Homo sapiens: one gene and its partners. The protein of the gene in region 1 purifies or fractionates together with the protein of each later gene. This does not show direct contact. Each region holds a gene or a part of one and is shown on either strand. Other genes may lie near its edges.

Region 1 (7,168 bases):
ACAGAGAAGGGGAGGGGTGGTTCCCCAGGGGAAGATGTGGTCCATTACCAGACCTGGAGGGATGGGGATGCTGGCAGGGCAACAACAGCAAATGTCCACAGCAGAAAACACAGGAAAAAACTTCAGGACTCTTTTGAACAAGTTTTGTTGCTTTTGGGATCACCCGATTTCTCTTAGGCTTTGAACACATTTTATTGATAGCACTAAAGTTCAGAATGCATTGTGATCATTTTATTTCACGGAGAATATTATACACAGTGTACCTCATTTGTAAAGCAAGGGATTTGGAGCCTGGCACTTCCTCCAGTGCATCTTAGAATGAACCACGTGCCAGTGAGGGAAGACACAGCTAAGAGTTGGACAACATGGAAAAGCACTTAATTACTTGGTTTTTGAGTAAGTCCAGAGTTCCTGCTGCTGTGGGTGGGTGGGGAGAAGAAATTCCAGCATGATGGAAAACTACATAATGTATTATGTTACTCTCCCTTAAATCCCTTAAATTAAAGGAAAAACAATCTTCAAAGAATCATAAAGCACATAAAGAGACAACTTGAGGGGATGCTTATCTGAGATAAATTGCAACATTCTTAATGGCTGGGTTTTGAATCAAAATGTAAGTGGTAAGGACTCAAAGTATCAGTCGCACATCTGCTGACTTGGAAAAAGTTGAGGAAAAATAAACACAATGACCAAGCCGTGCACTTGGCCGAGCCCCAGCAGTGTCCTGATACATGACTTCTCCTAGGGGCACATTGGATGCTGAGGCAGTGAAGGAGGATCAAGGAATATTGGCAGACGTCTGCGGAGAAGAATGCCTATTCATTCGTGTCCTCTGTAGAGGTCATCATTCCTTTACATGACCTTCCATCAGAGATTATGGAATGGAAACTAGACAGATGGAGAGGCAGTGAGTTGTCAATGATACACAGAAGAAAATGGGAACCATTAAAACCTTGGGTATGAGTTCCAGAGGCAGCGCTGCTTAAGCATTATGAACTCTGTCCCTGGAATCATGTGGAGTCAAATTTGAATCCTGATAGACTGCCACTTAATAGATGCATGGTTGTAGGCTGGTTACTTTGACCTTTTCGAGCCTTAGTTTTTTAATCTGTGAGATGGGGATAATGTTAGCATAAATTTTGTTGAGTTGTCACAAGGGCAAAACAATGATGGAAACCACCAGCTTGCCATTGAGTTACATGAATTGTATATTTCCTTTGCACATTTCTTAGCCTGGAACCCAGAAGGCTTTGTGATCTTGCCAAGTCTCCAAGCCGGCTTTACAATGAATTACTTCATATTGTAATTGAGGTTACCTTTACTTGACTTAAGTGTATTAATTTAGAAAGGAATTTTATGTCAATCACTACCATGCACAGTAAGCCCGATTCCACAGCCTGACAAAGGCTCCAAGCCTATGGCCTGCTATCCCTTTGTACAAGCCTATGGCCTGCTACATTCCTTTTGTATCCCTTTGTTCAAAAATCCCTTTGTACAGCTCTCTCTCTGTTCGAGAGCTGTTAAAGACACATCGAGTCATTGCCCTGGCCATCGTCAGAAGCCAGAAGAACAGTAGGAAAGGGAGCTCTTTCGCTTGAGAGCTGGTGTTGGCGAGTGTCACTGCAGGCTGCTGCCTCAAATCATGGCGCCCGGCTTGCTTTAGGGACCAAGGACAATGCTGCCTCCTCTGATCATCCAGCTGAACACACTGTCTTCTTCTCTTAGCTCTGTGCGGCGTTTTATGTTCTCAGCATCCTGGATCCTTGGCGATCTATTTCTGAACTTCCTTACCTCAACTAGAGTAGAAGACCCAGAGGGCAGGGCCAGCTCCATCCTGGTATTTGGCTAGCACCTCCTGGTGCCTGAGAGGCTCATCCAGGGTTTGTTGATTTTTAGTCCCAGTGAAGACAAGTGGTGGTCGGCTTCAAGCTACTGAAGGCCATAGACCCAGAGAGTGGTCTAAGCAGCCATGATACCTCCTGTGTCTGAACATGGTACCCGGAAACCTCCTCCTACTCCTTTTCTCCTTTTAGCTGATTAGTATATTTTCTATTCCTCCAGCCATCCCCCAATCCAAGAACTTTTTATTTTGTTGAAGATGGAAATTTTAATTCCAAAGAGATAGTAATTATTATGGTCTGAATATTTGTCCTCTCCAGATTTATCTGTTGAAATCCTATCCATGAAGGTGATGATGTCAGGAGGTGGGGCCCTTGAGGGGTGATTAAGTCATGAGGGTTGCAGCCCTCATGAATGGGGTTGGTGTCCTTAGAAAAGAGACCCCCAGAGAGCTGCCTTGACCCTTCCACAACTGAGGATGCAGTGAGAAGTCACCATCCATGATCAGAAATCGAGCCCTTATTAAACACCGAATCTACCAGCACCTTGATCTTGGTTTTCCAGACCCCAAAAATGTGAAAAATAAAACTCTGCGGTTTATCAGCCACCCAGCTTATGGCGTTTTGTTATAGTAGCCCCAACAAACAAAGATAATACTAAAATGATCCAAATTCTAGCCCAGCAGGAACAGAAGATATTGTGAGTCTTGGGTTTTTCTTATTTTCAAAGCATCAAGTGCAAAAACAAACAAATAAACACTTGGATTCAAGGGCTAGGCAGGATGGGATGGGAGTGGGGGGATGGAGAACTTCAGCATCAGCTTCAGTGCTGGAAGCTTGAGTGCTACTCTAGTTACTGCAGCTCTGTACCAATTTACCCAGAGTTTAGTGCTGTAAAACAACCATTTATTATGCTCATGGATTGTGTGGGTGGGAAGTTCGGACAGGGTACAGCGGGACAGCTATTCCTCAGTTGGAAGTCTTGAGGGCTGGGAGCTCAAATCATCGGAAGGCACATTCACTCAGGTCAGTGGCTGACACTGGTGGTCGGCTGGGAGGCCTCGGTTTCTCTCCACGTAGGTTTCTCCAGGTGATCTCTCCAGGTGGGCTTGTTAGGGCTTCCTCCTGGTACAGCAGCTGTGTTCAGAGGACAGGTGTCCTGAGCTATCAAGCCAGGGGGATGTTGTAGCACTCTTTTGGACTGTCCTCAGAAACTGCTCTGGTCACTTCAGCTGCTTTCTAGTTTTCAGAAGCTGGTCGTTAAGGCTAGTAGAGGGCAGGACCCAATTCAACCCCATTTTTTAGAGATGAGGTCTCGCTATGTTGCCCAGGCTGGTCTTGAACTCCCAGGCTCAAGCAATCCATCCACCTTGGCCTCTCAAAGAGCTGGAATTACAGATGTGAAGCACTGCCCCTCCCCCAACCCCATCTGTTATGAAAGGAGGGTCCTTTGACCACAAGTGCCCTGAGAAGTCAGGAGGACTTCCCAGTCTCAGACATTTTTATCTGAGCTGGAGATGGGGACAGCCTCCCACACACAGGACTTGGAAGGCTATGAAGGAAGTAGGGGGCTCTCTTGGGAGGTCATTTCCCTTGGTAGGGACGGTTGTGTGAATGAACTTGGCCTTTAGGGAGAGGAGCCCGACTCTCACCTGAAGCCACCCAACCTGTGCAGATGGCTGAGGAAGCCCTGGACACCACAGGACCGCTAACCCAGGATCTTTGTTGACTTTGCTCCCAGGCCACTGCCCCACACGCAGGCTCTGAACTCCTGGGAGAGGTAGGGAGCCAGCCCGAGGCGTGAGTCAAGAGTGTAAAGTACACCGAGTTCCTTGGCAAGCAGGCTCTTCAAGGGGAAGGTGTCACTCGGGGAACAATGAGAAATGTGTCTTTCCCTCAGCCCCTGATAGAAAAGATAACACCCCTTGAGCACAGCCTTTTCTCATCTGTTCTTGCTCTTGGATGGGGGGCTGCTACTCCGGAGCGGCGAACTGGCGGGCGGGGGTGCGCCTGTGAGTGTGAGCGCGCGTGTGCGTGTGTGCGCGCGCTCTCGTGGCCTTCCGGCAGCTGGCAGCTGTCCCGGCCCCCACCCCACCCTACCCCACCCCACCCAGCCGCGCCACGCCACGCCGCCCCCGCCCCTCGCTGTCCTGGGTGCGCCTCGGGCCGCTGCGCTCCTGGCCAGCTCCCCCCAGCGCCTGGGAGGCGACCCCCAGTGCGCCCGGGTTCAAAGGCCCGGCGAGGCAGTTCCAGCCCCTCTGGGGGGCGGGGAGGCGACGGGGGTGGTGCAGAAGCCAGAAAAGCCCGAGCCACAGCCGGCCAGCTCCGCGCAGGGATGGGCAGCGCGCTCTGAAAGTTTATGACCGCCGCAGCCAACTCCTGGCCGGAGCTGGAGACGCAGCGAGCGATCGGCCGGCCTCGAACCCCCACAGCTGGAGGGCGAGGCCAGCTGTACCCGGCCCCAGTGCCCTTTCGCGGCCACAAGCGGCCGTCCTCCTGGTCCGGTGCTCCGGCGCCTGATCTAGGTTCATGGAGCCGGGGCTGTGGCTCCTTTTCGGGCTCACAGTGACCTCCGCCGCAGGTAAGCGCACGGGGCGGCGCGCCTCTCCTGGCGCGAGCGCACACAAAAGGACCCAGGGCGGGGGACCCGAGGCGCGGAGAAGATGTGCGTCGCGGGGAGCAAACTCTTGCCTGGGCTCTGCACTCGTGAAGACGCCTGGGGGAGGGCTGGGGAGCAGAAGCGGCGCGCAACGACTACCCGCACGGGCTCCGGGAGTTGCAGCCCGCGCACTGGCTGGAGACCTGCTGCCTGGGCCGACTTGGTCAATTTTTCATGAAACTGGGGACTTTTCAGAAAGTTTGCGAACTATTCAGAGGCTGTGCCAAACCCTGGCAAAGTTTGCAGAAAGTATGCAAAATGCATGCAAGTTTTCAACGGGTGCAGATAGCTTGCAAGCTTTTCACAGAGTGTGCAGATAGCTTGGAAACTTTTCAGAAACTGCGCAGAGCTTTGGAAACTTTGCAGACATTTTGCTTGCTCCACCCCCCTCCTCAGGTGTTTGGGGGTGGCGGGTGTTGAGGGGTCTGCACACTCAGCTTAGGAGCCCCTCAATCTGCCTTCTGCAGGATTCGTGCCTTGCTCCCAGTCTGGGGATGCTGGCAGGCGCGGCGTGTCCCAGGCCCCCACTGCAGCCAGATCTGAGGGGGACTGTGAAGAGACTGTGGCTGGCCCTGGCGAGGAGACTGTGGCTGGCCCTGGCGAGGGGACTGTGGCCCCGACAGCACTGCAGGGTCCAAGCCCTGGAAGCCCTGGGCAGGAGCAGGCGGCCGAGGGGGCCCCTGAGCACCACCGATCCAGGCGCTGCACGTGCTTCACCTACAAGGACAAGGAGTGTGTCTACTATTGCCACCTGGACATCATTTGGATCAACACTCCCGAGTAAGTCAGCCTTTTGTGGTGAGGAACGTGGCTCCCGGACCAGGCCCACATCTGCTCATTCCCAGGAGGACCTCACTCCACCCCAGCCCCGCTCAGTTAGCCCAGAGCCTGCCCTGGCACAGCCTTTAGCTCTTGCTGGGGCCTCTTGCCAGCCCAGGTCTCTTCTGCAGGTCAGGGGTGTGACCCACATCCCCCCTGAGGGCCTGGCCCAAGAGAAACTCAATCCTGAGTTTGATCCTGTGGAAGGAGGAGCCCTCCCTCTGAATGAAGTGAACTGACCAGGGGGATTAGATACCTGAGATGTCTCTCTGAGCCTCTTTTCTGAGATAGAGAAAGCCCCGAAAGTTTATCTCATTCCCCAGGGGCCAAGGGGGCTCATACTCACTGTTGACCCCACCAGGATCCAAGGGGTTTAAAATTCCTTGAAAGCATCCTGGTCTCCAGGGAGTCTAAGGGTGGGTTTAGCTGAGCCTGACAGAACCTGCACAGTCCACTCGGGGTAGAATTCCCCTGGGATGGGCTCCCTTCCTTCCTGTGGGCCCCCCTGGATGCCAAGGCAGGGTGAATTCACATCAGCTCGTCCTTGGGCCTTCCACAGGCTGGCTCCAGTCACCCACTGCCATGGTCACAGAGGGCCTTCCCTTCTCTCCTGCAGTCCTTAGAAACTCTCTTACCCTAGGGCCTAGACAGCACCATCCTGAATTTGTCTTGGGGTTCGTCCAGTGGGGAAGTCAGCCTTCTCCTGGGGCCATGTGGAGAGAGTGTGGCTCTGACAGGGGGAGGCTTTGATGACTCCCAGTGTTCAGGGAACCCCTCCTGCAGGCACATCATCTTGCAGGCCATACAGAGGGCTTGACCTTGCCTGGGTCACCAACTCTCTGGCATTGGCTTCCCCATCTCTAAGATCTGGGACTTGGATCAGACACCTCTAAGTTCTGTTCCCTGGGTGTTCATGGGATCTCTTGGGACTCTTGCTTGTACCCTATTAGGGATTCTTAGCTGAGAACTCAGAGATGGTTGTGAATGCAAGCCCCTGGAAGCCTGGAAAGGCACCTTTGCCACCGTGTCCCGGAGCCGTCTTGATTCAGGTTCCTCACGGTCACCTTTATCCCCAAGCCCCATAACCTCTGAGCCCTTGGTAGCAGCTTTCATGGGGCTCACTTACCTACCTTGTGTCATCGGCACCTCAAAAATGAAGTGCAGACGAGGGTAGTAAACCTGAGGGGTGGAATGTCTTTCAGACCAGGGGACAAGACCTCTAATCACATCCATGATAGATCTGGAACATCACCCCACCATGCTTGAAGGGCAGGCAGGGGCTTCACATTGAGCCAGCAGGACACGTGCACAAAGTCCTGCACTCAGAAAGACTCTGGCTCGGCTTAAAGTCCTGCTGTCACTGTCTTGAAATCCTTAATACTTTCTGAACAAAGAGCTGCACATTTGCATTTTCTCCTGGGTCCCATAAATTCTGTAGCTGGTCGTGATACCCTGATTTGCTGGCTGGGCTGTGTCCACCTAGAGGATGGGAGGTGCCTCCCTGTTTCTTTCCCTTTGTGGGGAAGATAGAAGCTGTGAGTGTTGGGCCATCATCAATTGCCTCTTATCCTCAGATAGCGAGGGGAGTCACCTTTCCTTGTAGCCCCTGCACCTTGGCACTGCCCTTTCTGATTCTTATCCTGCATCATTGTGCTCTGATCAAATTCACTTCATAGAATGGAGGGCACTGGGCAGTCACCAGGAACCGAGTTCTTGTCTTGGCCAGAATCCCCAGCTGTGAATCTAGAAGGAGAAAGAAGAAAGCTAATGGAATTACAGACAGGAACCTGGGGTGGTGGGCAGGTGGGAGAGGATTTGGAAACCATCTCTTTCATTCGTTGCCTGTTTACCA
Region 2 (7,031 bases), on another chromosome or scaffold:
GGCCTTAAAGAGTCCCAGACTGGTTAGGCCAGGTGCGGTGGCTCACGCCTGTAATCCCAGCACTTTGGGAGACCAAGTGGGGCGGATCACCTGACGTCAGGCTTTAGAGACCAGCCTGGCCGACATGAAGAAACCCCCTCTCTACTAAAACTACAAAAATTAGCCCTGCGTGGTGGCGCACATCTGTGGTTCCAGCCTGGGTGACAGAGCGAGACTCTACCTCAAAAAAAAAGAAAAAACGTCTCAGACTGGTTGGGAATGGTGGGGCTGGACACAGATATTCAGCCCCCAGTGTGTTCACTGAGACAGTGCTCAGGGCTAAGAAGGAAAGTGGAGGGGTGGGGTGGATGTACCTAGGGAGGAAAGAGGACTGTGCTGCAGATAACAGAGCAGGAGCCACTAAAATAGGGTTCTGAAGCATGCATAGGAGTTTATTGAGTGGGAAAAGGGAGCAAACAGCCTCTATGAAGACGTGAGGGTGGCTGGAGTGTCTCAGGATCCCCATCTAGGTTTGCCTGGTCTTATGGCACTTTTGACTGGGAGGTAATGAGAGCCAGAAGCAGGGGAAGAGGGGCCTTGAATGTCACACTGAGCAGCCTGGCCTTCCCCTTGGGGTTGATGGGCAGCCACAGGAGGTTTTGAGCAGGAGTAGGGCATTGCCCTCAGGTTGGGTGTGGGGCAGACTGGAGACTTGATGAGCTGATCTGGCAAGAGAGGATGAGTTCCTAACTAGGGCAGGGGCTTAGAGGGGTGGAGAGGTGTAGACAGTGCAATCGATGTTTGTGGAGTTTCACCTATAAGACTTGGGGACCAACTGGGTAGATGTTGGGGTGAGGGAGGAGGCTGGGAGACCTCCAGATCCCCCTTGATGATCTTCTGTTCTTACCAATGCCTGTCACTTCTTACCTATAAGAACCAACATCTTCCTCTATCTATTATAAAATAAACAACCAGCCAGGGGCAGTGGCACATGCCTGTAATCCCAGCACTTTGGGAATCTGAGATGCAAGGATTACTCGAGCCCAGGAGTTAGAGACTAGCCTGAACAACATGGTAAGACACTGTCTCTACAAAAAAATTACAAAAGATTAGCTGGGCTTGGTGGGTGGTGGCATGTGCCTATAGCTCCAGCTACCGGCGAGGCTGAGGTGGGCAGATCCCTTGAGCCTAGGAGGCTGAGGTCTCAGTGAGCCGAGATTGCGCTGCTATACTCCAGCCTGGGCAGCAGAGCGAGACCCTGTCTCAGGGAAAAAAAAAAAAAAAAGATAAACAACCAACCTACTAACTTTTGTATTATGTTCATACTTTATCTAGTCCTAGACTTTTTTTTTCCGAGAGAGAATCTTGCTCTGTTGCCCAGGCTGGAGTGCAGTGGCTTGATCTCGGCTCACTGCAGCTTCTGCTTCCCAGGTTCAAGTGATTCTTGTTCCTTGGTTTCCTGAGTAGCTGGGATTACAGGCATGTGCCACCATGCCGGGCTAATTTTTGTATTTTTAGTAGAGATGGTGTTTCTCTATGTTGGCCAGGCTGGTCTCAAACTCCTGGCCTCAAATGATCTGCCCTGGGATTACAGACGTGAGCCACCACGCCCAGCCCAGTCCTAGTCCTTATAACATCCTCATGGATAAGAGGCATCCTGCTTTTGAGCAGGAGGGAGTTTGGGATCAGATTTCTGTCTGGAGTGGTATGGGGGTTGGGTGGAAACAGAAGACCTTCAACTTAGGGAAGAACTTGGGGAGGCAGATGGTGAGCTGGCCTCCAGCAGGCACTTAACAAAGATGTACTTGTGATTCCAGAAACAGAGCTTTATAGTTTGGTTGAGGCTGGTAAGATTCTGGGAGGTCTGGTTGTGTGGCCGTGCTGAATGGTTCTTCTGCATTCCCCAAAGCATGGGTGGGGTCTGTGTCTGATGTCTTGGGGGCTCTGGTTAGAGCCTGAGGGAGAGCTTCCAGCTTTAGTATTCTGTCTTTTATGTATTTCTTCATTTCATCATCCAGCATTTCCTGAGCCTTTGCCAAGCCCGGGTCTGGGCAATGCTGCAGAGGGAATTAGGTCCACATCCAGGCCCTGCTCTATGGGCCTTGTAGGCTGCAGGGAGACAGACCTGGACATAGATGTTCCTGGCCCAGAGGAATGAAGGTTATAATGGGATGTGAGAACCCTGGAGAGGGGGCATCTAACCCAGCTAGGGGGCATCAGGAAGAGGCCTGGTGGTGGGAAGGGATAATATGTTGCAGACAGAGGGAGAAGCTTGTACAAAGGCCCAGCTCCCATTAGAGCTGTAAGCAGTGGGGTGATTTGAGACAAAGCGAGGGTCTGAACAGCAGGTTAGGGACCTGGACTTTCTCCTAGGGTGGTAGGGAGCCATGCAGGGCTTTGGGGCAGGGGAGGGACGGGGCCAGATGTTGAGTTGGGAAGATCAGAGACTCATGTCAGGGGAAGAAGGAGGTTGGATCAGTGGTTCTGGTGAGACAGGATGAGGCCGGGCAGCCAGGGCACACTCTGGCTCTAAGCTGGCAGGCTGGAGTCATCACCTCGTTGAATGTTCACCCCAGCCTTTGTGGGTGGGGGGAATTATCCCCATTTTACAGTCATGGAAACTAAGGCTCAGAGAGCCCATGGAACTGGCCCAGGATCACCCAGCCATTGGCAGTGGTGGCTGAGTGTCTCCAGGATCCAGATAGGCACACTGAGGGTCATGGGGGAAAGGGCTGGCCCAGGGTCCTCCAGCTGGTCATGGGCAGAGCCAGAGCCAGAGCCAGAGCCTAGGCCTCCTAATTTCCCTCACCCAGAGGACTCCCCTGAGCTGCCTGTTCAGAAGGCTTCTCATGTGGGATGTGGAATGAGAGAGGCTACCTGAACTAGGACTGGCAGAGAATAAGACAGTGACAGTGTTAGGGGTAGTGGCACTCTCCACGATATGTGGGCCCCATTGTCAACATTTCTTTTTTTTTTTTTTGAAACAGAGTTTCACTCTTGTCGCCCAGGCTGGAGTGCAATGGCATGATCTCAGCTCACTGTAACCTCTGCCTCCCGGGTTCAAGAATTCTCCTGCCTCAGCCTCCCAAATAGCTGGGATTACAAGCATGTGCCACCATATCCAGCTAATTTTTTGTATTTTTAGTAGAGACGGGGTTTCACCATGTTGGCCAGGCTGGTCTCGAACTCTTGACCTCAAGCGATCCACCCACCTTGGCCTCCCAAAGTGCTGGGATTATAGGCGTGACCCACGGCACCCAGCCTCTTTTTTTTTTTTGAGTCCCCTCTGTCGCCCAGGCTGGAGTGCAGTGGTGCAATCTTGGCTCACTGCAACCTCTGCCTCCCGGGTTCAAGCAATTCTCCTGCCTCAGCCTCCTGAGTAGCTGGGACTTGCACCACCATGCCTGGCTAATTTTTGTATTTTTTTTTAGTAAGAGACAGGGTTTCACCATGTTGGCCAGGCTGTTCTGGAACTCCTGACCTCAGGTGATCCACCTGCCCTGGCCTCTCAAAAGTGCTGGGATTACAGGCGTGAGCCACCCACCCCACTCTGTTGTCACCATTTCGTGTGCATTATTGCTCCTCATGAGGTTGCAGTCAGATGTCAGCTGGGGCTGCAGTCAGCTGAATGTTCACCTTGGCTGGACATCCAGGAAGGTCCCTCCCAGGGCTGGCAGTTGATGCTGGCTGTCAGCTGGAAGCTCAGTTGGGACTGTCAGCCGGAATGCCTGTGTGTGGCCTTTTCTTGTGGCTTTGGCTTTTCTTTGTTTTTTTTTTTGAGACGAAGTCTCGCTCTTGTCCCCCAGGCTAGAGTGCAATGGCACAATCTCGGCTCACTGCAACCTCTGCCTCCCAGGTTCAAGCAATTCTCCTGCCTCAGCCTCCCAAGTAGCTGGGATTACAGGCACCCGCCACCATGCCCAGCTAATTTTTGTATTTTTAGTAGAGACGGGGTTTCGCCATGTTGGCTAGGCTGGTCTCAAACTCCTGTCCTCGTGATCCGCCTGCCTTGGCCTCTCAAAGTGCTGGGATTACAGGTGTGAGCCACCGTGCCCAGCCGGCTTTGGCTTTTCCTATCATGACAGCTGTGTTCTGAGAAGGAGCATTCTACGAGGCCCAGGTGAAAAGTACAAGTCTTCTTATGATCTAGCCTTGGAAGTTTCAGAATTTCTGCTGTTTTTTTATTGGTCAAGCAAGTCACTAAGGCTCTTCCCAGATACGAGAGGCAGGGAATTAACTTTCAATGGCAGGAGTGGCCTATAAGTTTGATTCCACCACAGTACCACTATATCCCACTTTAGAGATGAGGAGACCGATCCAGAGGGGGTGGGTTACTTGGCCAAGATCACACAGCTGGTAGCTATTTGGTGGCAGAGCCAAGACATAAGCTCAGGCAGTCTGGTTCCAGAGTTTGTGCTTGTAACCATCACAATAAGCAGAGGTGAGACTCTGGATGGGGACAGAGGGGAACTATGCCGCTCCAAGGTTAGGCCTCTGTTCTGGGGGAAGAAGCTGGACTCTTCTCTTGCAGCTCTATTCAGCGTGGGCCAGGGGTGGTGTCACGGAGGTGCTCTTCTCACTGGGATTATGACCTTGACCCTCCAGCCTGGACATGTCTGAAACTCAGGCATGGACAGGAAGAGAGAGGCATCAGGAACACTGGATTCTGCTCTGTGTGGCCACTGGGATGGGGTTTTCTCTGTACTTAATTTTCCCATCTGAATGGTGGGAGTGTTCATTCTGATCTCAGGTGACCTTTCTAGAGGTCTGGAATATTATGATTCTTTCTCTGGGCTCCTGTCCCTCTGGCTGTCACAGCCCTTGACTGCCCTAGGTTATGAGACTGGGGGCCCCTTCAAGGCGGGGCCCAGGTCTGACTCATTCTTGAGCCCCCAGCATCACCTGGATCAGGGTTTGGTGTACAATTGTGGGAGGCTGCAGGGAGGTGTGGGGAGAAGGTCCGCTTTAGAGCTTGGTCCCTCTGTGCTCACCTCCCAGCCCCAAGCCCCCAGCACCGGATCCTGCTGGACTTCCTTTTCCTGGACACAGAGTGCACGTATGACTACCTGTTCGTGTATGACGGTGACTCCCCGCGAGGGCCGCTGCTTGCCAGTCTAAGTGGGAGCACCCGACCTCCGCCCATCGAAGCTTCCTCAGGCAAGGTTAGTGGGGATGGGGCCGTGGCAGATACACCGAGGGAAATGGAAGAAGAAAGGAGGGACAGAGAGTCAGTAAGAGGGCATCCAAGAGCAGAGCACAGGGACAAGGGAAGGTGGAGAGAGGCAAAGGAAGGAGATGAGGCTCTGGGTCCCCCAGGGTGGAAGGGGGCAGGAGTGGGCCACCCTCCCAGGACAATCCCCAGGCCCTGCCCACCTTACCCAGCACACCTTGTGCCCGCAGATGCTGCTGCACCTCTTCAGTGATGCCAACTACAACCTGCTGGGCTTTAACGCCTCATTCCGCTTCTCCCTGTGCCCGGGTGGCTGCCAGAGCCACGGGCAGTGCCAGCCACCGGGTGTGTGTGCCTGCGAGCCGGGCTGGGGGGGTCCTGACTGTGGCCTGCAGGAGTGCTCAGCCTACTGTGGCAGCCACGGCACCTGCGCCTCGGTGAGCCGGTCCCCAGCCCTGTTTCCCCTGGGGCCCTGATCTGTGAGCGCAGCCTCCACGCCCATCTCCTAGGTCTGACCTTGCTCCTGCATGAAACTCCCCCCACCACCCCACCCTCCTCCGTGACACCCACTTCCCTCTCCTTCCAGAGCTTGCCCCTCACCTGTTACTCCAACCCCACCCCACCTTCACCTGCAGGGCCTCCCCTGCTGAGGATATCCCACTCTCATCTATACCCCACTCTCATCTGTGAACACCACCCTCCTTCCTCCAGCCAGGCCCAAATCTGTCCTCCCATCCAGCCACTCTGTGTGGCCTTGGACCCCTGCCATGACTTCCAGCCTCGCACCACTGACCTTACGCCGAAGCTGTGTACATCCAGCTTTCAATCTGGATTGCGCTTTGAGCCCTCCCCGCCTTGACCTCCCCAGATCTGAGCTCTTTCAGTCCAGGCTGAATGTCAACTACGCTGTCTGTATTCTCCCAGCCTGCCGTCTTTCTGTCTTTTCTCCTTTTTCTCTGTGCATCTTTTCCTTTTTCTGTTGGTCTTCTTTTTTCCGTCTGTCTGCTTCCTTCTGATTGTTTCTCTTTGTCTCTTGTTTCTGTCTGACAGTTTGCCTTTCCCCTCTTCCTGTCTCTCTCTGTCTCCCTTTCTCTCTCTCTCTTTCCTTTTCCATCCTCTCCCTTCCTGTCTGTCTCTTTCTCTCTCCCTTTGTGCCCTGTCTGTCTCATTCTGCCTCTTTTCCTCTCTGTGTCTCCTTTGTCTCTCTGTCCTTGTCTCTCCCTCTCTTATCTCTGCCTTTATGTCTCCTTTCCCGCAGCCCCTGGGACCATGCCGCTGTGAGCCTGGCTTCTTGGGACGTGCCTGTGACCTGCACCTGTGGGAGAACCAGGGGGCTGGGTGGTGGCACAACGTGAGTGCCAGGGACCCTGCCTTCTCTGCCCGTATTGGGGCAGCTGGCGCCTTCCTGTCCCCACCAGGGCTGCTGGCAGTTTTCGGAGGTGAGCAGATGGGGCGAGTATCTGGGATCTGGAGGCCCGGCAGCCTATGGCCAGGGCATGAGACTATCCACCCCTCCACAGGCCAGGACCTCAACAATGCCCTGGGTGACCTCGTCCTATACAACTTCTCCGCCAACACCTGGGAGTCTTGGGACCTGAGTCCTGCCCCGGTATGGACCCCTCCTCTGCCCTGGAGGAGCCTTTCCACTCAATCAGACCCAGCCGGGGACCCCCGGAATGATCCCCTATCACCTAGTGCTCCCACAGTTCCTGCAGCTTGATATAGGAACCTACTTCTCCCTGTTTCTGCCTTTTCTCTCCGGTTTTCTTTTTTCTTCTTCCTCTTCCTTTATCTGCCTTTGTGCATCTTATTTTTCCATGTGTCTCCTGTTGCTCAATCTGTCTCTGTTTTCGTCTGTCTGACTTTTGGGCTTCTGTGTTCT
Region 3 (7,312 bases), on another chromosome or scaffold:
CAGGTGGCACGCTGGGGTTCTTGGAGAGGGGTGTGTGGCTGCCAGGGGACTACTGCTGTCATTGCCATCTGCAGAGACAAACAGAAACCCAACACGGCAGCCATCACTGGGGCCCCTTCATGGGAGGGATAGGGTGGAAATTGCAGGTCCCAGCAAGGCCTCAAAGCAAGTGCCCAGCCTCCCCTGATCAGTCCAACCTGAAGCCAGGTCCTGGTGTGCACAGAGATGCACGGCTGGGCTGCCCCACCTGCTTGGGCCACAGGAAGCATTTCTCTAAAGGTGAGCAGCTTCCTCTGCAGGTGACACGGCCTCCACCCAAACCCAGAGGCTCTGGCTCTCCCACTGCGGCTTGCCGCAGCCCCACACTTGCCTGCTCCCACACTGACACCTCCAACACCACAGGGGCTGCTGGGTCACGTGGCCCAGATGGCAGGGCTGCTCAGACAGTCATTTTCTGCTCCTGGCCGCCTCGAAGCTGGCAGCCTCCATGTCAGCCAAGCCGTGGGTCAGAGCAGTGCCCCCAGGAATTAAATATGTTGCCTTCAGAACCCAAAAAGGCCTGTCAGGCCCTGTGCTTCCTCCTTTGAAGTAGGGGATGCAAGATGTAGCAATTTCTCTTTTACTTTAGAGGATGTCCTGGTATGAACCTGATCACTGGTGCCCTAAAAACTTCCATGAAGTTAGGTCCCTGAATCCTCGGAGTTCACCTCCCACCCACAGATGCAAATGTGTCTCATAAGGCCTCTAGCTCATGACCCTCCTGTTCCTCCTCCTGCCCATTATGTCGTCACTGTAATGGATCAGTGTGGTGTCCGGTGCACTGCTCAGGTGCCCAGATCTTTTCAGGCAATATTAGGACAGAGGACAGAGTTAGCGTGGCCCTGCACTAAACTGGGAATGAGTATTGTTGTTCCTCCCATGTAAATGCAAACTGTTTCCGATCCTCTTTTCTAATTGGAATAGAAAAGAATGCAATGGCCAATCACTGGCCTCATTAATCTGCTACGATGATACGTCTGACACAGCAGATGCAACTGGAGCTACTACCGGGTTCAGGCTAAGTGGTCTGGCGTCACTTTCTAGGATCCATCAGTCTTTGCAATGACCAGGCCAGAGAATTAGACACGACAGTCCACCACCCTCGCCTCCGTGAGGCCTTTAACGGTGGTGCCATCCTCCCAGGATGCAACGTGGTTTGTGATTTACTCTCTTGGCCATGGAAAGGGGACTTCCCCACTATGATGTCTGTCACCACACAGGCCTGGGATCCAATATATGGCTACTCCAGCCACCAAGTACATAAATTATAATTACATACTCAGGGGGCAGGGAAGCGGCCACTGGATGGTCTTCTGGCCCAGGGGTCTCACTGTGCCCAACACTTTAGCCAGGATTCCTTTTTATTACCTGGCCCCGTCAGCCCCTTCTCTAACAGGGAGGCCACAGCGACACTTTTGGCCTCCAGTATCAAGGTCCACTCACATCCCGCGTCCATTTGTCCTCAAAATCTCTGGATTTTCCCAGCGTGCAGCCAGCTGAGTGAGTGACAGCGGGATTCTACAGAACATCCTTGTCAAGGTATTGCCTGGTCCTTCCTTCTGGTGACCTGGCCACCTCTGCAATCAATGGTTCCAGACAGGAAATTAGCTCAAGTCCAGGAATGGAGTAGGGAACCACGATATTTTACTGGAGTCCCCGCCCTCGGCCTCTTTCTTCCTTCCTCTGCCGTCCGCCAGGGCGGCTTGGCTCAACATGACCCATCGCTTTCTCCAGGCTTCTGGGAGCCATCCCAGAATCATCTTTGACCCACGACCTGCAGAACTTGCCAGGTAACTAATCCTATGTGCCAAGCAAGTGCCTCCGCCTCAATAGTTCTTCTGTCCCCCTGGATAAAGCACCCTGGAAATCTAATACCGGGGGTGTTCCCTGGCTCCTGCAGGCACATGCTGGCTGCCTCGTGCAGTTCCTGGACATGCAACCTCTCTACTCCCTGGTCAGGCCTAGCAGGTCCCCATCCAGGTTACCCTGGACTTTCTCCCTAGTCACTGCTGGCAGCCAAGAGACAAGGTGGAGCAGCCCCCAGTGAGGGCACCTGCTGCTCTGGTAGGGGAGGCCCCTGGAGCATCTTCCAGCACAGAGGAAGTGCTGGCTTCCAAGGGCAGGAGGGGCCCCTCTGCAAGCTCTGAGGGGACAGGGGTCTGCAGGGCCATGCCCTCAGGGCTTCCACCTGGATGTCTCAGCCCATGTTTCAGGGTCCCAGATTTTCCCAACCGGGGTCCAGACCTTCACATAGGCCAGCCGTGGCCAGGCATCAAAACATGCCTAGAGCTAGGTGGTCCCCACAGTCACTGTCGGCTCCTCAGCCATACTGGTTCTACCTCTGCCAAACATGGGACTCCTTTTCAGCAACCAGAGAGGCCCTTTGTTCTCACACCAAGCCTGATGGGCAACCGTGGGTAACGTCGCAATCTCCATTCATCCCTCTGTGGAGCATCAACCCCACTCCCCCCATGCACTGAAAGGGGGAAACTGCCACACCCACAAGGCCTCCCCTTCCACCAGGAAAACGTCCCAGATCACTCTTGGTGAAAACATTTAACAATTGGGGCCCTAACTTTGTGCCAAAGATTACCCATATCCCCACATCAACCAGAATGGTGTCCTCGGTGTTGGCCGGGAAACGGCCACCGCACCAGCTGAGTCTCAGGCCCCTCCTGCACCACTTGTGTTAATTGGGGTCTTCCAAGAGGCAGGTGCCATGGAAGCTCTGACGTGACTGGAGATTTATCAGTGCAATGTCTGTGAAGGATGCTGGGGGGGTGGCCAAAGAGGACGGAAGCCTCAGACCACAGGTGAGACCCCTGTGAAGGAGATACGGGGAGCCTTGGCCAGCACGTGCCCCTAGACAGTGCTGGCCAGGCCGAGGGAGAACTTCTGGAGCCAAGGTAACCCCTAAAGGATTCTGGTCTTGTGAGGAGGGGCCTGGCTTCCCCCTGGGAGCTGCTGGCTTGGAAGCAGGAGGCATTGCCCAGGTGAGAGTTCGGCATGGACCCAGGGGAGTGGCACACGGTGCCCGCCGTCAGCTGTGCTCAGGAGCAGCAGGCAGGAGCCCTGGACTCATGGCTACCATGTGGCTGCCACACTCAGGCACACTTAGGCACATACACTCACACTCAGGCACACTTAGACACACACATTCACACTCAACCTCAGACGCAGACACACACCACACACTCACAGATGCACACAGTCTCAGACACAGACACACACCACACACAGATACACACACCACAGACTCAAACTCAGTCTCAGACACAGACACACACCACACACTCAGATGCACACACCACACACACTCAGTCTCAGACACACACACACACCACATTTGCAAACCTGCTCATCAGAAGAGGGACCTCGCCCCCAGCCGCTCCGCCACCTTCCAGGACAGCTCTGAAGGGAGCCCTGTCCCGGAGCCCAGGGACCTCTCCCCAACCCGGCTGCGCCTCACCTCAAGGAGGAACCCCGGCCCTGGCTGGGGGACTGTGACCAGGGTGGGGAGTGGGGACCCCAGACAGAGCCCTACCAGGGACCCCTGTCACTCTGTCCCCGGCTGGGCTCAGGTGGGGACCTCACGGTGGTCCCAGGGCCCAGCACCAAGCCCACCTGTGGTTTCCAGCGGGAAAGGGGTGGCAGGGGTGGCTCGCCGCATGCCCAGGCTCTGCCCCAACCTCCGCGCCCAGGCTCTGCTGTCCCTGCCCTCCCGGCTCCCCACCCTCAGGCCCCAGGAGCGGCAGTTTCTGCAGGAGCTCCTGACCCGGGGCCTCTCGCGGGAGGCCTGAGCAAGCCGGACACAGGACACGGGGTAGGGGAGGGGTCGGGGGGCTGATGGGGGGAACCCTGCACCCCCCAGGGCAGCTGCTACCAAGGGGCGAGTCCCAGGGCCCCCGTCGGCCCTGCGTGCGGGGCGCGGTCCCCAACACCCAGGGCCCCGGAGGCGGACACAGCCCCAGCCAGGTCGTCCGGGAAATGGGGCGGGGGCGACGGGCGGCCGGGCCCGGGACGCGAAGTCCGAGCAGCAGCGGGCAGGGGCTGGCGGGGGAGCTCGGCCCGGGCTGCAGGGGGGTCCCCACCCTCTCCACCTCCTCCAGCCTCCCGCCCTCGAGGGTCCCCGCTTCCCTCCCATCCCCCTCCCGTGCCCCCGGCCCCCTCCTCCCATCCGCGGGGCCGCAGCGCTTCCTGGCGGCGGGGCGGGTCAGGCCGGCGGGGCGGGGTATAAAGGGGGCGGCGCCGGCCGCGGTTCCCTCCCTGCTGCTTACTCGGCGCCCGCGCCTCGGGCCGTCGGGAGCGGAGCCTCCTCGGGACCAGGTGAGCGCCTCCCGGACCCCGCACCCTGGAAGCCGCTCGGCCCGCGGGGGGTGACCCCGAGTCCTGGGAAGGCGGCGGCGGCGGCTCCGTCCCTCGGGTCCCCGGGAAGGGGGACTCCAGCCCCAGGGACGGCGGGGGGCTCGGCGGGTTCGGGGCTCCTCCTCGCGGGGCTGGGGCCGCGCCTGCCCCTGTGGCTCCGCGTCTCTGGGTCCGACCCTCGGGCGCGCGACTTGGGGCCACCTCCCCGCGGCCTCCTCTGGGGCGGAGCCGGCCTGGGCGGGGTGGGGGGGTCCCTGTCTGCGCCCGAGCTCGGTGCTGGGACCCCCGCTCCCGAGACGACCCCGGCACCGCACGCCCCGCCAGGCCCCGCGTCTGCGAGCGGTTCGGGTCCGGCTCCGGCCCGCGGGGAAGACGCCCCGGCTGGCTGGGACCTCCGGGGGCGCAGGGCCTCTCCCCGGGCCGGACGGAAGGGGCGGCGGGGCGGGGGGAGGAGGGGCTTTCGGTGCCCGAGGGCGGGACTGGGCGGGGAGGGGACGCGGGTGGCCCCGACGCCCCATCGCTGCGCCCCTCCCGGCCTGGAGCCCACCAGGGCCCCGCCAGGCCCAGGAGAAGCTGCAGACGGAGGCGGCTCCCCAGGGCGGCGGGACCCGGGCTGACAGCGACCCGCAGCCCCTGCCGGGCCGCCCACACCCGCCCTGGGACTCCGCCGGGGCGCTGGTGGAACCGCTGGGCCTGGGTCTCCACTGCTGGCAACCGAACGGATCGGCCCTCTGTGGAGCCGCAGGTGTGCGGGCGAGCGGCGCCCATCCGGGCTGTGCCAGCAGAACCCCGGTGCCCGCGCCTAGGACGCCCCTGGAGAAGGGACCTTCCCTTTGGGGTCGGAACCCAGAAAGGAGGGGCCTGCGATCCGCGGAGCTCCTTGTTCTTGGGATAACACAGCTCTGGCTTGGAGGCCCCCTTGCACTTCGACTCTGGTGATTATTTCAAGAAAGGCCAGACCGGGCACGGTGGCTCACGCCTGTAATCCCAACACTTGGGGAGGCCGAGGCGGGCAGATCACCTGAGGTCAGGAGTTCGAGACCAGCCTGGCCAACAGGGTGAAACCCCGTCTCTACTAAAAATACAAAAAAAAATTAGCCGGGCGTGGTGGCAGGCACCTGTAATCCCAGCTAATCGGGAGGCTGAGGCAGGAGAAAATCACTTGAACCTGGGAGGCGGAGGCTGCAGTGAGCTGAGATCGCGCCACTGCACTCCAGCCTGGGTGAGGGAGCGAGACTGTCTCAAAAAAAAAAAAAAAAAAAAAAAAAAAGGAAAGAAAGGCCCGGTGAGATGCTTTCTCTTAAACACGGCCCTGCACGTTGAGTTGCTGCCTCCTGTGGCCTATTTCACGTTTATGCAAAGTCGGGCGCCTGATGCGGGGCTCACCCGCCACAAGCAGGGGTCCTGGTGCTGCTCATGGAAGGGGCCCTACCCAGCCCGCGGGGCACTGGCTGGGACGGGGCTGCCCAGGTCCGCCCAGGATCCAAACACCCAGCCCCGCCCAGCGGCCCTTCCTGGCCTGCAGTGGAGGCTGTAATGGGCAGGGGTGGTGGGAATCCCAGCTCACAGGGCGCCTGCTCTTAGAAGGGCGGCATCTGGGTCCAGAGGTCAGAAACGTCAGATGCCCATCCCAGAAGTGGCGGGGAACCTGTCTCCACAATGGATAGCAGCACTGTCTTTTTTTTTTTTTTTTTTTTTTTCTCATTTCATAGATAAGGAATGATGCCTTGTTGGGGGGTTTGTTCTGCATGTCTTTGGTTTTTGTGCAGTACAAGGCTATTTGGGCTGTTTGATCACTGACCGTGTGTAGTGATGTGCATTGCCTGGTTGTGATGTCCCCATGTTCCTAATGGATGTTCGCTTTTTGGGTTTTTTTGGTTTTTTGTTTGTTTGTTTGTTTTTTGAGACAGGGTCTTGCTCTGTCACCCAGGCTGGAGTGTGGTGGTGCTATCACTGCTCACTGCAATCTGCACATCCCTGGCTCAAGCGAGCCTCCACCTCAGCCTCCGAGTAGCGGGGACTACAGGCATGCACCACTGTGCCCAGCTAATTTTCTTTTAAGAGACGGGGTCTCACTATGTTGCCCAGGCCATGGATGTGTTTGTTTGTTTGTTTGTTTGGGGTGTTTGGGGGGTTTTTTCTTTTTTTATTGATTTGAAAAAGCTTTATTTTCCCGAATTTTTTATTGTGGTATACAATATAAAATGTACTGTCTTAACCATTTTTAAGTGTGCAGCTAGTTCAGCGACAGTAAGTACATTCATAGTGTTGTGTAGCCATCACCAAGGTCCATCTCCGGAACTCTTTTCCTCTTGTCAAACTGAAGCCCATGGAGCACCAACTCGCATCACCCCTTCCCTCCCCTGGCAGCCACCATCCTACTTTATGTTTCCAGGAATTTGGCCATTTAGGTGACTCATATGAGTGAAATCGTATGAAATGTCTCCTTTTGTGACTGGCTTATTTCACGTGGCTTAATGTCCTCCAGATTGATCCACACTGTAACGTATGTCAGCATTCCCTTCCTTTGTAAGGCTGAGCAGTATTCCACTGCATGCATGCCCTGCATTTTGTTTACCCATTCGTCTGTTGCTGGACACTTGTGTTGCTTCCACGTTTGAGCTACTGTGAATGATGTGGCCATGAACACACCACACAGATACCTCTTGGAGATCCCACTTTCACTTCTTTTGAGTATGTTCCCAGAAGTGGAAATGTGGATCATTTGATTTTTTCATTTTTTTGAGAATTAATTGCCTCACTGTTTCCCACGGTGGCTGCACCATTTTGCTTTCCTGCCAACAGTGCACAAGGGTCCAGTTTCTCCACATCTGCACCAACAGGTGTCATTTTCCGGGTTCGCTTGGTTTTTTTTAAATGTTAACCATCCTAATGGGTGTGAGGTGGT
Region 4 (7,000 bases), on another chromosome or scaffold:
CTTGGCTTCTCAAAGTGTTGGGATTATACGTGTAAGCCACTGTGCCCAGCCTAGGTTAAAATTTTTTAAATGTTAAAAATAGAAGCATTTAAGGCTGGGCGCGGTGGTTCACGCCTGTAATCCTAGCACTTTGGGAGGCTGAGGTGGGTGGATCACCTGAGGTCAGGAGTTCGAGACCAGCCTGAACAGCATGGTGAAACCCCGTCTCTACTAAAATACCCCGTCTCTACTAAAAATCAGCCGGGAGTGGTGGCAGGCACCTGTAATCCCAGTACTCAGGAGGCTGAGGCACGAGAATTGTTTGAACCTGGGAGGCAATGGTTGCAGTGAGCTGAGATTGTGCTACTGCACTCCAGCCTGGGCGACAAAGCGAAACTCTGTCTCAAAAAAAAAAAAAGAAGCATTTAGGTTGGGCGCAGTGGCTCACACTTGTAATCTCAACACTTTGGGAGGCCAAAGCAGGCAGATTGTTTGAGTCCAGGAGTTCAAGACCAGCCTGGCAACATGGTGAAACCCTGTTTCTACAAAAAAATCCAAAAGTTAACAGGGTAACGTGGTGCATGCCTATAGTCCCAGCTGCTCAGGAGGCTGAGGTGGGAGGATCACTTGCAATCTGGAGGTCGAGATTGCAGTGAGACAAGATGGCGTTATTGCACTCCAGCCTGGTTAAAAAAAGAAGTATTTGTATCTCAGGTGGCGATCTTTATTCAGAAGCTAGAAGAGAATGTTGAGTTGCTTCGCTGATTTTCTTATCTTTCTCTAAGCAATTTCCTCATAACAAAAGTTTTAAGAATGTTTTTTATTAAGAGGAAAAACTGGGCTGAATGTACTGGCTCATGCCTGTGATCCCTGCACTTTGGGAGACCAAGGCAGGAGGATCAGTTAAGCTCAGGAGTTTGATACCAGCCTGAACAACATAGTGAGACCTTGTCTCTGTTAAAAAAAAAAAAAAAAAAGAAAGCCAGGCACGGTGGCTCATGCCTGTAATCCCAACACTTTGGGAGGCCAAGGCAGACAGATCACTTGAGGTCAGGAGTTCAAGACCAGCCTGGCCAACATGGTGAAACCTCATCTCTACTAAAAATACAAAAATTAGCCAGCACGATGGCGTGCACCTGTAATCCCAGCTACTTAGGAGGCTGAGGCAGGAGAATCACTTGAACTCGGAAGGTGGAGGCTGCAGTGAGCTGAGATTGCACCACTGCACTTCAGCCTGGGCGACAGAGTGAGACTCCATCTCAACAACAACAACAAAAAAAAGTTAAAACTGAAAGCACTTTTGAATCTTACTCAAATGTATTAATGATTAGTGTAACATTGGTTATCCTTTACATAGAACAAAAGCATCGAACTTTCATTGCTTTCCCATGTGTTTTACAGAGTCCTTTTTTTTTTTCTTTTTTTCTTCTTTTGGATTCTGGCATCTTTCATTTTTAAGATGGAGTCTTGCTATGTTGCCCAGACTGGTCTCAAACTCCTGGGCTCAAGCATCCTCCCACCTTGGCCTCCCAAAGTGCTGGGATTACAGGCATGAGCCACTGTGCCCAGCCTCAATTCTGGCATTTTCATTCATCTGTTTAAGCCCAGTGCAGAAAAACATTGTGGACGGAAGGGGAAAGTCTTTAGCGTAGTCACCAATGAATTGACCTTTGCCTAGGCTTATAAGAGCTGCCTGTTTCAATTTGCCTTCAACTCTGTTGGGGCAGGGTGCAGTGGTTCATGCCTATAATCCCAAAACTTTTGGGGGCTGAAGCAGGAGGATCACTTAAGGCCAGGAGTTCAAGACCAGCCTGGGCAACATAATGAGATTCCCATCTCTACAGAAAATTAAAATTATCTGGGCACTGTGACATGTGCCGGTAGTCCCAGCTACGAGGGAGGCTGAAGTGGGAGGATCACTTGAGCCCAGGAGGTAAAGGCTACAGTGAGCCATGATCACTTCACTGCACAGCAGCCTGGGAAACAGAGCAAGAGCAAAAAGAAAAGAAGAAAACTCTGCTGGGATTTGTTTTTGCTTAGTAAAACTTTTTTTAAAGTAACTTTTTACTTCAACATCACCAGCCTTTAATGTTTTCATAATGGCATCTGAGTGGGTTTAATCTGTTTAGTGATTCAAGAATATGTAGCATATATTTGATACAACTTAAGCATTCTGAATGAAGTGGAATCTAGTAAGTCATGTAAGGAGACTTTCAGGTTGATCAGATATTTCCCATCAATGATATCATTAGGGTACATTGCATAATTTTTATATGGTCATTCTGAGTTTATTTAACACCTGGTTATAGCTCCCCCCACCCCCCTGAGACGGAGCCTTGCTCTGTCGTCCAGGCTGGAGTGCAGTGGCACGATCTCGGCTCACTGCAACCTCTACCTCCCAGGTTCAAGTGATTCTCCTGCCTAAGCCTCCTGAGTAGCTGGGATTACAGGCGCGCACCACCACACCTGGCTAATTTTTGTATTCTTAGTAGAGATGGGGTTTCACCATGTTGGCCAGGCTGGTGTCGAACTCTTGACCTTGTGGTCCGCCCGCCTCGGCCTCCCAAAGTGCTGGTTATAGCTTTTGTCTCAAAAAAAAAATGAGCCTGGGAAAACAACCTGTGTAGTATATGGGTCAAACCCACTTGTACTTTTTTGTTTTAGGATGCACTCCAGAAATTGACTGAAATTCTCAATTTAAATGGAGAAGTAGCTTGCCAGGACTCAAGCCATCCTGCCAAACACAGGAACACATCTGCAGTCCTAGGCTGCTTGGCCGAGAAACTAGCAGGTAACTTTGGGACACTCCACAGTGGAAGATCTTAAGTTGTTTGACATTAAAGGGAAATTTGTACTGTATGTCTTTGATCAAACTGCTATACCAGAAAGAAATCTCTTAAAAATGATATTGAGAGACATAGACTAACTGGAAGAAAATTACTGAAAGGCTACAGAGGTGAATGCAATTTAATTTAGCTTTGTGGATTTTCAGGGGAAATTTTAAAAGAAAAAAGTTGTGCTTATTTGCTTTAAGAATAAGGAGCGAGGAAAAGAAAAAAGGGAGAAAAGCTAAATTCAGCATAACAAAGATATGTATGTGTGTATACAATATATAATTTGCATATATACACACTTTATAAAGTTTAGCTCGATTATGAAGACATACAAGGTAGAGGGAGAGGAAAAGGAACTTCTGGTTGGAGCAGTTCCTGAGAAGCAGGTATTTAATTTGTTTATGAATGTTACCCATTTTAAGAAAGTTAACAGCAAAGTACAGGGGCATAGCTCAGCTACTTACATCACGTAATGTGGAAGAAACAATGGATTAGAAATCAGAACATGTGGCTACTGGTTTGGACTCTCCCATGTGCTTGCCAAGTGCCCTGGAGTTAGTTGCTTAATTCTGTGGGCTCACTTGCTTAACTGTGAAATGGAGCTAGTACTATTTTCTACCTCAGAGCAGGAGGCTTTAATAAGATAATGTGCATGAAAGAGTTCTACCAAAACAATTTGATTGTTACCAGTGATTTAAAATAATCTGGCATTTTAATTATATCAAGTGTTTGTTGTATTTGTCTAGGTCCTGCAAGTATAGGTTTACTTAGCCCAGGAATACTGGAATACTTGCTACAGTGTCTGGTAAGTGAGACATCAAAACTATTTATTCTTAGTCATCTAGAAGTGGGCATCATCTAGAACTGTGCATTTTCTCAAATTGCTGGCATAGCCACTGGCACAGAGAATGGAATCAATTGTAAATTTTATTTGCAGGTGTTTCCCGAGTGCTTATTTATTCCCTCCTATGTTTAAAAAAGAGAGTGGGATTGGAATTTATCCCAACCAGCAAAAACAGCTGAGTTAGTCTGGTTTTAAATTTAGTCATAAGATAGCTGCTATGATTGGCTCTTTTGCATGTTCCTTGAGTTTGCCAAATGGTAATAGGGACCTCCACAGTAGAAACAATTACATGGCGTTCCAAGCCAGGAGGCCATCAAGTCAGATTCCCAGTATATATAAATCTCTACTCCTCCCTGCCCTCCCCCTCACTGCTACTCTTAAAACTGTTGTCACTGGAATATTTAATATATTGTCTATGAAGCTTCTGGTTTGCTGAGGCTGTGCCCTCAGATCTCTCATAGTTCTGGCCTGTGGTCTTGAATGGTCTGTATTTTTAAAAGTTATTTTTGTAGGCCTAGTGAGCATTGGCCCTTTTCAAAACTCTGGTCTGAAAACCCTTATTTGTCAATACCCACTGATACGTGCTTAAAACACTTACCTTACTCTCAATGAGCACTCTGGGGATACAACATGGCAGTCCTATGATTTCAAGAGGTTTATTGGTTAGTTGAGGAAACAAAACTACTCAGACAAGGTAATTAGCCTCCATTTTATCACAGGATGTGATCATGGGAGAAAGTACTTCATCAAGACTAAATGAGGGCCGGGCACGGTGGCTCATGCCTATAAGCCCGGCATTTTGGGAGGCTGAGGTGGGCTGGTCACCTGAGGTCAGGAGTTCAAGACCAGCCTGGCCAACATGGCGAAACCTGGTCCCTACTAAAAATACAAAAATTAGCTGGGCATGGTGGCATGTGTGTGTAGTCCCAGCTACTCAGGAGGCTGAGGCAGGAATTCACTTGAACCCAGAAGGCAGAGATTACAGTTAGCTGAGATCTCACCACTGCCCTCCAGCCTGGGCGACAGAGCGAGACTCCATCTCAAAAAAAAAAAAAGACTAAATGAGAAGGTGGGTGGTATGGGTAATGAGAGCCGGGGTGTCATGAAAGTCAGACTTCCTGATGAAGGTGGACCCTCAGCTGGGTCATGCTATAGATGAGGATTTTATTGTGCCCAGAGGAGGGAAAAAATTGGTTTCTTAGCTAAGGGAACATCACAGGCAGAAGTCCAGAGACAGAGAATTGTCTGATGAGAGAAGACAGTGTTCAGAGATAGGACACAGACTGAGTAGCCAGCTAGAAAGGGTTTAGGGCCTGAAAAGCCAGGCAGAGGGATTTAGATGGATATGAGAAGAAATAGAATGCTGAATAGGCTTTCCAGCAGCAGGGATGGTGGTTATGTGAGGTTTCCAGAACTTAGGAGGTACCAGGGAAGTCAGTGGGAATCATCTGATGTTCTGGAGCTCCTCTGGTGGCTCCCAATGTAGCAGTAGGGAAAGCACAGCTATGAGAAGGTGTCATGTTCAACAGATAGACCTTTCCTTAAAGGGGAACTCATGTGACATGAGCTTAAATGTAACTAAAAGAGTTCACTTGTTGCTTTCTCCTGTCTACCATCAGCATTTGTAGAATTCCTTTCAGGGAACAGCTTAAAAACTGAGCCATTAATTGTTAATTTAATTATTTATAATTTTGCAACTTGTTAGTGATAAGTGGTTCTTTTTAGGATTCTAAGTAAAATATCATTTTTAGTTTATAATTCTAGGTTTCTGTTTGGCTTGCATAAATGAATGTGAGAATGAATATTTTATTTAACAAAGCCCTAATGTAAGTTTTATTAAGTAAAATAACATAGTGTATTTAACAGGATACTTTTGAAATTTCCAAATCTATAAATTAACCTAGTGACTTTAAGAAAAAAATACAAGATTAAGAGAGCCTGTCCAGTTCATTACTAACATTATTAGCCAAATGGATAATTGAGAACTTGAATGAATGAAACTTTTCTGACCACTCGAAAAAACATCTAGCACATATTGGGCAAGGAAATGAAACTGATAACTTGCCACCTCTGCAGGGGAATGATTTTTTTTTTTTTTTTTTATCTTTTGTTGTTTTTCAGAAGTTACAGTCCCACCCCACAGTCATGCTTTTTGCACTTATCGCACTGGAAAAGTTTGCACAGACAAGTAGGTATAGTGACTTCTTGCACTAATGATCTTCTGTATTGGTTGTTAAAAATTTTATTTTTCTTAGTTACTGGATAAGCCTACACTTTGAACCCCATCAGATGGGCATACATTCTGTTTTCATCTGGATAGACACGTTAAAGCCAATGAAGTATAACAGGGACAAAGGCAAGGATTTTCTCACCTAAGAATCAAAACTTGGTAACCATGTTTACTCACTTTTTATAGCCAAAAATTTAGTGATGTGATTGCTAGTTTCTAGAAAAAAGTATGGTGGCTCTTGCCCATAATCCCAGCACTTTGGGAAGCTAAGGCCAGAGCATTGCTTCAGGCCAGGAATTCGAGACCAGGGTGGGCAGCATAGCAAGACTCAATCTCTACAAAAAATTTTAAAAAATCAGCCAGGCATGGTGGCATGCACCTATGTTCCTAGCTACTTGGGATGCTGAGGCGGGGGGATCACTTGAGCCCAGTAGTTCAAGGTTACAGTGATCCATAGTTGTGCCACTGCACTCCAGCCTAGGCAACAGAGTGAGACCCTGTGACTAAAAAAAAGGAAAACAAAATAGTCAAAGCTCTTTGGCTATGTTTTCCCTAGAAATTTTAATTGAAGTCTAATCTAGTCTCCAATTCTTTAATTGCCTCTTCCCCCTCCTTAGCAATACTAATTTGCTGAGCAAATCATTCTACCCTTTCATTGTTAATTCAAGGATTATGTCTTTCCAAACAGGTGAAAATAAATTGACTATTTCTGAATCCAGTATTAGTGACCGGCTTGTCACATTGGAGTCCTGGGCTAATGATCCTGATTATCTGAAACGTCAAGTTGGTTTCTGTGCCCAGTGGAGCTTAGACAATCTCTGTAAGTGGGAGTTGTCCTTTATTAAAATGTCCGTTTCCATTTCCAGACTCATTTCTTTCATAGGCTCACTGGTCTTCCTTTTGCAATGGTAAGTATGAGTCCTCATAAGGACCTCTACTGGCAGGTTGGATATATTCTAGCAGAAAAGTATCCTAGAGACCCTTTAGACAAGAATTACATGGTATGCTTCTAATTTCAGCATTTTCCTGTTCAAAAACCTTTACTGGCACCCAGTTTCCTGCTGCATCAAAGCCCTTAATTATATGGCACTGTCTAACCAGCTCTTTCCAACA

What was found.
Region 2: the proteins of EDN3 (region 1) and MEGF8 purify together in Homo sapiens (co-immunoprecipitation; 2 studies listed by BioGRID and IntAct, with this or other methods). This does not show direct contact.
Region 3: the proteins of EDN3 (region 1) and COL6A2 purify together in Homo sapiens (co-immunoprecipitation; 2 studies listed by BioGRID and IntAct, with this or other methods). This does not show direct contact.
Region 4: the proteins of EDN3 (region 1) and RSPRY1 purify together in Homo sapiens (co-immunoprecipitation; 2 studies listed by BioGRID and IntAct, with this or other methods). This does not show direct contact.

What each region holds. Positions count from the first base shown.
Region 1 is NC_000020.11:59,296,446-59,303,613, forward strand, and holds the start of EDN3 (endothelin-3 isoform 1 preproprotein), read left to right. Parts: upstream 1-4,165; 5' UTR 4,166-4,367; coding exon 4,368-4,419; intron 4,420-4,964; coding exon 4,965-5,277; intron 5,278-7,168. UniProt on the Homo sapiens protein: Endothelins are endothelium-derived vasoconstrictor peptides.
Region 2 is NC_000019.10:42,328,628-42,335,658, forward strand, and holds part of MEGF8 (multiple epidermal growth factor-like domains protein 8 isoform 1 precursor), read left to right. Parts: intron 1-4,977; coding exon 4,978-5,141; intron 5,142-5,379; coding exon 5,380-5,586; intron 5,587-6,407; coding exon 6,408-6,588; intron 6,589-6,669; coding exon 6,670-6,758; intron 6,759-7,031. UniProt on the Homo sapiens protein: Acts as a negative regulator of hedgehog signaling.
Region 3 is NC_000021.9:46,093,809-46,101,120, forward strand, and holds the start of COL6A2 (collagen alpha-2(VI) chain isoform 2C2 precursor), read left to right. Parts: upstream 1-4,303; 5' UTR 4,304-4,365; intron 4,366-7,312. UniProt on the Homo sapiens protein: Collagen VI acts as a cell-binding protein.
Region 4 is NC_000016.10:57,210,329-57,217,328, forward strand, and holds part of RSPRY1 (RING finger and SPRY domain-containing protein 1 isoform 1 precursor), read left to right. Parts: intron 1-2,643; coding exon 2,644-2,770; intron 2,771-3,559; coding exon 3,560-3,618; intron 3,619-5,778; coding exon 5,779-5,845; intron 5,846-6,575; coding exon 6,576-6,707; intron 6,708-7,000.